Linked DNA regions of Homo sapiens. The protein of the gene in region 2 interacts with the protein of the main gene of each other region in a pairwise test. Each region holds a gene or a part of one and is shown on either strand. Other genes may lie near its edges.

What was found. Proteins that work in one complex are often made in the same cells at the same time.
Region 1: the proteins of HTR2B (region 2) and SLC44A2 interact in a two-hybrid assay, tested with the Homo sapiens proteins (one large-scale study listed by BioGRID and IntAct).

What each region holds. Positions count from the first base shown.
Region 1 is NC_000019.10:10,624,020-10,627,767, reverse strand, and holds the start of SLC44A2 (choline transporter-like protein 2), read right to left. Parts: upstream 2,216-3,748; 5' UTR 2,135-2,215; coding exon 2,098-2,134; intron 1,516-2,097; coding exon 1,467-1,515; intron 47-1,466; coding exon 1-46.
Region 2 is NC_000002.12:231,122,799-231,126,546, forward strand, and holds the start of HTR2B (5-hydroxytryptamine receptor 2B), read right to left. Parts: upstream 2,245-3,748; 5' UTR 2,204-2,244; coding exon of another isoform or gene 2,174-2,203; exon of another isoform or gene 1,333-2,173; 5' UTR 967-1,332; coding exon 615-966; intron 1-614. UniProt on the Homo sapiens protein: G-protein coupled receptor for 5-hydroxytryptamine (serotonin). Also functions as a receptor for various ergot alkaloid derivatives and psychoactive substances.

The DNA of each region.
Region 1 (3,748 bases), on a different chromosome or scaffold from region 2:
AATGGCCAGGAGCAGGAACACACAGCATATGATATCCGTGCAGCCCCTGGGGAGCAGAGGGGCAGTGTTTGGAGGAGGCTTGGTGCTGTGTGCACCATGGGCCCATCTGCCCTCTGCAAACACCCTCATCCATGTGTTATTTGGACAAATTTTCCTGAGTCGTTTGAATGCCGTACCAAAGGGCACATGCATTTTAATTTTTATTTCATTTCATTTTTTAATTTTGTGCAACAGAGTCTCACTCCGTCATCCAGGCTGGAGTACAGTGGCATGATCATAGCTCACTACAGCCTCGAACTCCTGGGCTCAAGTGATCCTCCTGCCTCAGCTTCCCAAGTAGTTGAGACTACAGGTGCACACCACCACACATTTTTTTTTTAATTTATATACATTCTGTAGAGACAAGGTCTCGCTATGTTGCCCAAGCTAGACTTTTTTTTTTTTTTTGAGAGGGAATCTCACTCTGTCGCCCAGGCTGGAGTGCAGTGGAACGATCTCAGCTTACTGCAACCTCTACCTCCCAGGTTCAAGCGATTCTCCTGCCTCAGTCTCCCAAGTAGCTGGGATTATAGGTGCCCGCCACCATGCCCAGCTAATTCTTGTATTTTTAGTAGAGACAGGGTTTCACCATGTTAGCCAGGCTGGTCTCGAACTCCTAACCTCAAGTGATCCACCTGCCTTGGCCTCCCAAAGTGCTGGGATTATAGGTGTGAGCCACCGTGCCTGGCTGTATTTTATTTTTTTGTTATTTTTTTTTGAGACAGAGTCTCGCTCTTGTCCTCCAGGCTGGAGTGCAGTGGCGCAATCTCAGCTTACTGCAACCTCCACCTCCCAGATTCAAGCAATTCTCCTGCCTCAGCCTTCTGAGTAGCCTCTGAGTAGTCACAGCTACTGGAGAGGCTGAGACAGAAGACGTGCTTGAACCAGGAGGGGAAGGTTGCAGTGAGCTGAGATTGCACCACTCCAGCCTGGGTGACAGAGTGAGACTCCATCTCAAAAATAAATAAATAAATAAATAAATATAAACATGGTAAAAATTAAGTCCAGGCCAGGTGTGGTAACTCACACCTGTAATCCCAGCACTTTGGGAGGCCAAGGCAGGTGGATCGCTTTGAGCTCACGAGGTCGAGACCAGCATGGGCAACACAGCGAAACATCTCTGCTAAAAGTACAAAAAAAAAAAAAAATTAGCCAGGTGTGGTGGTGCAAGCCTGTAATCCCAGCTACTTGGGAGACTGAGGTGGGAGAATTGCTCGAACCCGGGAGGCGAAGGTTGCAGTGAGCCGAGATTGAGATCGCGCCACGGCACTCCAGCCTGGTGACAGAGCAAGACTCCATCTCAAAAAAAAAAAAAAGTTTCAAATATTTGTCACCAGTTTGTTGGAGAACAGATGGGAGGGGGTGTGAAGAGACAGGGATTGGGGTAGTATTAGCGGGGAGAACCCCCCAAAACCCAGAGCTCTTACCTATTGTAAATGGGTCCTTTGAAAGTGGGATCATACTTCTGTGGCGTTCCTGAAAGTCAAGAAGATTAAGATGGATGGGATTGGAGACCTGAACCAAGACAGGGCTGGGAGAGCCCCCTCCCAAAAGCCCCTAGGGGTGTCTTTGCCTTGGCAAGAATAAAATTCAGAGACCTGTGGAATTTTCTGCCTCACCCACCTCCAGGTGACCACACCCAAGCCCCCAGTTCTGGCAGGCCAGGACAGGGGAGGAAGGAGGGATCACTAACTGTGAACAAACTTATTAACTGGCGGCCACCCACTGGGAAGAGGGCTGAAATGGTGACCACCACGGAACCAGGTGGAGATGGGGAAGATCTGAGGTGGGATAGGGGGAAGGAGGCGCCGGCAGCAGTGCCAGGCAGAGGGGTACAGGGGCAGGTCCTTCGGGTAGGGGAGAGTAAGGAGGGTCGTCTGCGAGGCTGCGGGGGATAAGTGGGGTGAAGGGGCCTGGCTGATGGTGGGGAGGCTCCAGGCGCAGATTTGCAATTGCGCTCCCCCTCCAGCCCCCTTCCCTGCGCCCCATGTTCTCTCAAGGCCCCCTCCGAGGGACCGAGGGGTCGGCCCGGGGCTACGGGCGGGGGTCGCTGCCTACCGTGTTTCCCGTAGTAGTGGGGCCGCTCGTCCCCCATCCCTGCAGGCGACCAGCCCCGGCGGCCGCCCGCGCTCTCTCCCGCGCCCCCTCGACCCTCCCGAGTCTGGAGGGAGGCACTGACCGCGCGACTGGCGGCGGCTCCTCCCAGCACAGCGCCAGGCGGGGCGGCCCAAACCGGTCAGACCGGCCCGAGCTGGGCAGCTGCCCAGACTAAGGGACCCGGGAGGGCGCGGGCGGGGCTGCAGCTGCTCCCGCCACTCACCGGCCGGCCGCATTTAGCCTTCCCCGCCCCCACCCGGGAACCCTGCGGCTTCACCCTGGGAACACCCTGCCACCGGGCGATGCCGCCTAGAACCCCTGGCCACCCTGAAAGGGCGTTTCCGTGGCTTCGTTTTGCAGGTGTGGAAACTGAGGCACTGGGAGGGAAAACGGCCTACTGCCCAAACCCAGACAACCAACTGTGGAATGTTGGTGCTGAAAACTTCTCCAAGCTGTGCAGGAAATTAGTTTTCTTTCTGTCTGCTGCTTTTTTTTTTTGAGACAGGATCTCCCTCTGTTGCCCAGGCTGGAGTGCAGTGGTGCAATCACAGCTCATCGCAGTCTCGACCTCCCTGCCTCAAGCCATCCTCCTGACTAAGCCTCCTGAGTAGCTGGGACTACAGGTGCTCTACTGCACTCGGCTAATTTTTAATTTTTTTTGTAGAGATGGGATGTTGCTATGTTGCCCAGGCTCATCTTTAACTCCTGGACTCGTGGGCTCCTCCCACCGTGGCCCCCCAAAGTGCTGGGATTACCTGCGTGCACTACTGGGCCTGGTCTTAGAACAAGTATTTATTCAGCCCTTAGTGGGTGCAGGCCTTGGGCGGGGCACCGCATACAGTGAGGAACCAGAGAGACCCAATCTCCACCCTTGTGGAGCCCACATCCTCCTGGGTCGCCCTGAATTCAAATGCTCCTTCTGCACCCTCTGAACTAGAGGATACTTAACAAAGGGCTTATCTTCCTTAAGCCTCAGTTTCCTCAACTGCAAAATGAGGCTAAAGTATGAAACCAAAACTGACCTCAAAGAGCAGGCATAGGCCAGGTGCAGTGGCTCATGCCTGTAATCCCAGCACTCTGGGAGGCTGAGGCAGGTCGATCAGGATTTCTAAGCCAGCCTGGCCAACATGGTGAAACCCCTTCTCTACTAAAAATACAAACATTAGCCAGTGTGGTGGCACATGCCTGTAATCCCAGCTACTTGGGAAGCTGAGGCAGGAGAATCGCTTAAACCCAGGAGGTGGAGGTTGCAGTGAGCCAAGATTGCCTCACTGCACTCCAACCTGGGGGACAGAGTGAGACTCTGTCTCCAAAAAGAAAAAGAAAAAAGAAAATAGGCTGGGTGTGGTGGCTAACACCTATAATCCCAGCACTTTGGGAGGCCGAGGTGGGCGGATCATGAGGTCAAGAGATCGAGACCATCCTGGCCAACTTGGTGAAACCCCGTCTGTACTAAAAATACAAAAATTAGCTGGATGTTGTGGTGTGCACCTGTAGTCCCAGCTACTTGGGAGGCTGAGGCAGGAGAATCACTTCAACCCGAGAGGCGGAGGTTGCAATGAGCCGAGATCGTGCCACTGCACTCCAGCCTGGGTGACAGAGCGAGTGTCTC
Region 2 (3,748 bases):
TGAATCGATAGATCATCTCTTTGGACACTCTGAGCCAAACCATTTCCTTCAGCAACTAAACATAATTTTTCTTAACATGACACATATGTAGGAATTGTGTTCAAGTTTATAATATACAAACTATTAAGAGCTATAATAAGAATTTTTGGACAGTTCCAATTTTAAACTGGGGTTTAGTGATTTAAATTGGGATTTAGTAATTCAAAGACCTTATCGTTAACCCAGCGCATATCTGTCCCGGAAGTGTCCTAGTTATTGCTTTGAGGAAAAAAAGTATCAGTGTAGAAAAGTTAAAGTATAGGCCTATTTACTATAATTTATAGATAATATATTCAGAATCTATAAATATCACTAACTTGAATGACTTTTTAAATGATTTTATTAGATAGCTTAGGAGGGAGAAAAATAGTTTACAAAAAATATTTTTTGCTCTTTAAAACTGCTGATCAACCATAGAGAATGATATAAAACAAGGGACTGTTTACTTGCCGTATCTTTAAATAGTCCAAGTTCATCTTTTATTTCAAGAAAAGTAAAGATTAAATGAGTGTCCATTCTCTAATAGTATATCATAGTTCTGTGGTTTGATGGCACAAACAAAGTGAAATACTTACCAAACATTATTGTCAAGAGGGCAATTGGCATCACAAACAATCCAACCAGCAAATCAGCCACCGCCAAGGACATTAGAAAGTAATTAGTAGCATACTGCAGCTTCTTCTCCAGTGAAACAGCCAGAATAACAAGGGTATTTCCACCAATTGTGGGTATTATCACCATGAGTATCAGAAGAGCTGCCCAGTGCAGTTTATTTCCCTGTTCCTCAACAATCTGTTTCATTTCCTCTGGTATTGATTCTGTCTGTAATCCAGACCAGTTAGAAGAGATAACGTGAACAAAGGTGCTCTGCAAAATGTGCTCAGGAATTGTGCTTTGAAGTTCAGACACTCTGTAAGAGAGAGCCATTTGCTGTTTTTCTGTGATTCAATCCCGTTCCGAACAGTGGTCAGCATGGTTAGTAGCTAAGCTGCTCATCTGTTTTTTTAAGGCATTGTAACCATGCCAAACACTCAAAAGCCAAAGTTGACACCTTCCTTTAAAAAAAAAAATTCAAGTTCTCTAAAATGAGCGCATACACACATCTGTCCATGTTTGTAGGTAAGATATCCAAGTATTTATTATTTTCTAGAGGCTTAAATTTAGGAAAGCTCAGTGAAAGAAACTGATAGCTGTGAAAAAAATAGGATATATATATATTTTTAGTTTCTCTCTCTCTCTTTTTCTGCCGTAGTTGTAGAGTCGTGTTTGAACTTGCATGCCAGAGAGTTCCCCCTAGATACAAAATACATAGACTGCATTATTTTATTCATTTCTGAAAGTGGTAAAAACACTTGAACTTCATAGCCCTTCCCTTCTTAGTAAGTCTGTTGTGCATTTGTGACAATGCAGCCAATTCTCCAAATATACTGTATTTCTGATGTTGCTCAGTTAATGAAACAGAAGACACATTAATTTTTTCAATGGTTATAATAAAAAGTTAGGTGTTTCCTGACCCTTGAATGTCTTTTTACCTTTACTTACAGAAGAATAGAAAAGTCGAAACACAATAGTTCAGAATAGAACTTTTAGTATGCGCTGGCCACCCACCTAGAAACACTCAAAGCCCAACAAGGGTCTAAATAAATGTTTTACCAGCTAGGGATCCTTATATGTAATTAGCTTTGTCTTATCAGGTTTGTGAGTACTGATATAAATGTCATTTTAGATTTCCTTTAGTTTGAGAGAAGGAAAAAAAAAGGTATTACTAGGATCCAAATAATTGTGTTTAGTAATTTCATCTCTCATGGTATGTCTTTGCAACAATTGTGTTCTAAATTTAATCACTAAATTTGCCAAATTCAAACCAGTTCTTTTTTTGTTTTAAGTAGTGTTTATTTTTTTAACCTTCCCAGTTGCCTTGAGAAGAAAGGGAAACCAAAAGGAAGATTAGACCATTTATTTGTTCATCAAATGTACAAATCACGTTTTTAAAAACTCTCCTTTAGCATTAGTAAATTTTTCATTTTGATTTTTAAACCGCTGAATAGAAATGAAAGATTATGATAGCAGAATTCTTGAAGATTAAAAAAAAAAACCTTTAGATTAATTCCATATGTGTTTATTAAATGCTTACCTCTGGTTTCGTTGTTATTTTGCTGAGCATGTCATCTTATCTGTTCACTAGACTTGCTTGCTGCTGTGACTGAAATCCTCCTCCCATTGACTTATTCTGAGCCTCCAGCACAGGCGGTTGAAAGCAGTGAAACAAATACGTTGTATAGCTGCAAGCATGCCAAGGAGGTTATTTCCTCTTTGATACATTCATTTTTAGAGAGTAGCAGCATTCATTGTAATTCATAAAACCACTGTTAAGCATGTTGAACCAGTTCATGGCCCTTATTCAAGTTATATTTTTAAGAGCTCTCTTTAATATTTGGGGGGACTGTAATAAACTTGATCATTTTAGCTTCAGATAGTTTTGTTTGGGGTTAAGCCTGAGCTGTTTTTCACATTTGAGAAAAAATAAGATATAATCTAGCTATTTTAGAGGTTTCATTCTTTGAAGATTCTGCCGTTTTAAAAGCCTATAGTGATTTCTACAGTTCTGATTTCTAGCAGTGAAACAAGATTCTTATCTAGCTTTTGTGCCTTTGCTGTGGAACACCATTAATTTGCTCTGGTTGCAACCTTATATAGAAGAGCACAGAAAGGCCTGAATTCTACATGTATACATAGGTTTTAGCAGAAACTTTTTTACTGCTTATTTTTAAACAGATGATCTCTGGGTTTAGGAGTGGTTCACAGCTTTTTTTCCCCATAGACTTTACGTTGGAGAAAATACAAGTAATGAAAATACGTTTTTGCCTTATTTCAGAAAATTGGTGTTTAAATCTTAATAGTTATGCTATTTAAGTTTTCTGTAACCATAAGACTAGCTTAGTATTAGAACCTCAGCATTCTCAAGGTTTCCTTTTAAAAGATCATTATAGATGCATATTTTAAAATTAATTACTTATAAATCAGTGATGACATTTGTGCCCTTTTCTTGTTTCAAATTTGTATTCCTTTGCTCATGTTGAATGTTATTGGAAAATACTTAGTTCATTTTAGCTCTGCTGAGCACTTCAGATTTTATTCAGTATTTGCTGCTTTTTTAAAAACTCAAAATTTACTATATTAGAAAAAATACTTGTGAAGAATTCTAGATGAAATAATATTCAAGAGAAATCAGATGTTTTTTAATGTACCAGAATTTCTATTCAGGAATATGAAAATATTTTAAGGCAAGGTGCGGTGGCTCATTCCTGTAATTCCAGCACTTTGGTAGACCAAGACAGGTGGATTGCTTGAGTCTAGAAGAGACCAGCTTGGGCAACATGGCAAAACCCCATCTCTACAAAAAAAACCACATAAATTAGCCAAGGGTGGTGGTTCACACCCGTAGTCCCAGCTACTGGGCGGCGGCGGAGGGGTTGAGGGTTAGGGGTCAGGGGAGACCTGAGGCAGGAGGATTGCATGAACCTGGGGGAGGTCGAGGCTGCAGTGAGCTGAGATCACACCACTGCGCTCCAGCTTGGGGTGACAGAATGAGATCTTGTCTCCAAGATTAAAAAAAAAAGAGGAAAAGAAATTATTTTTAAATACTGCTTAGTTGTGAGTTACACTTTGACATCTGTGCTTATGAAGGCAGGTAGGGATCTGCAAAACA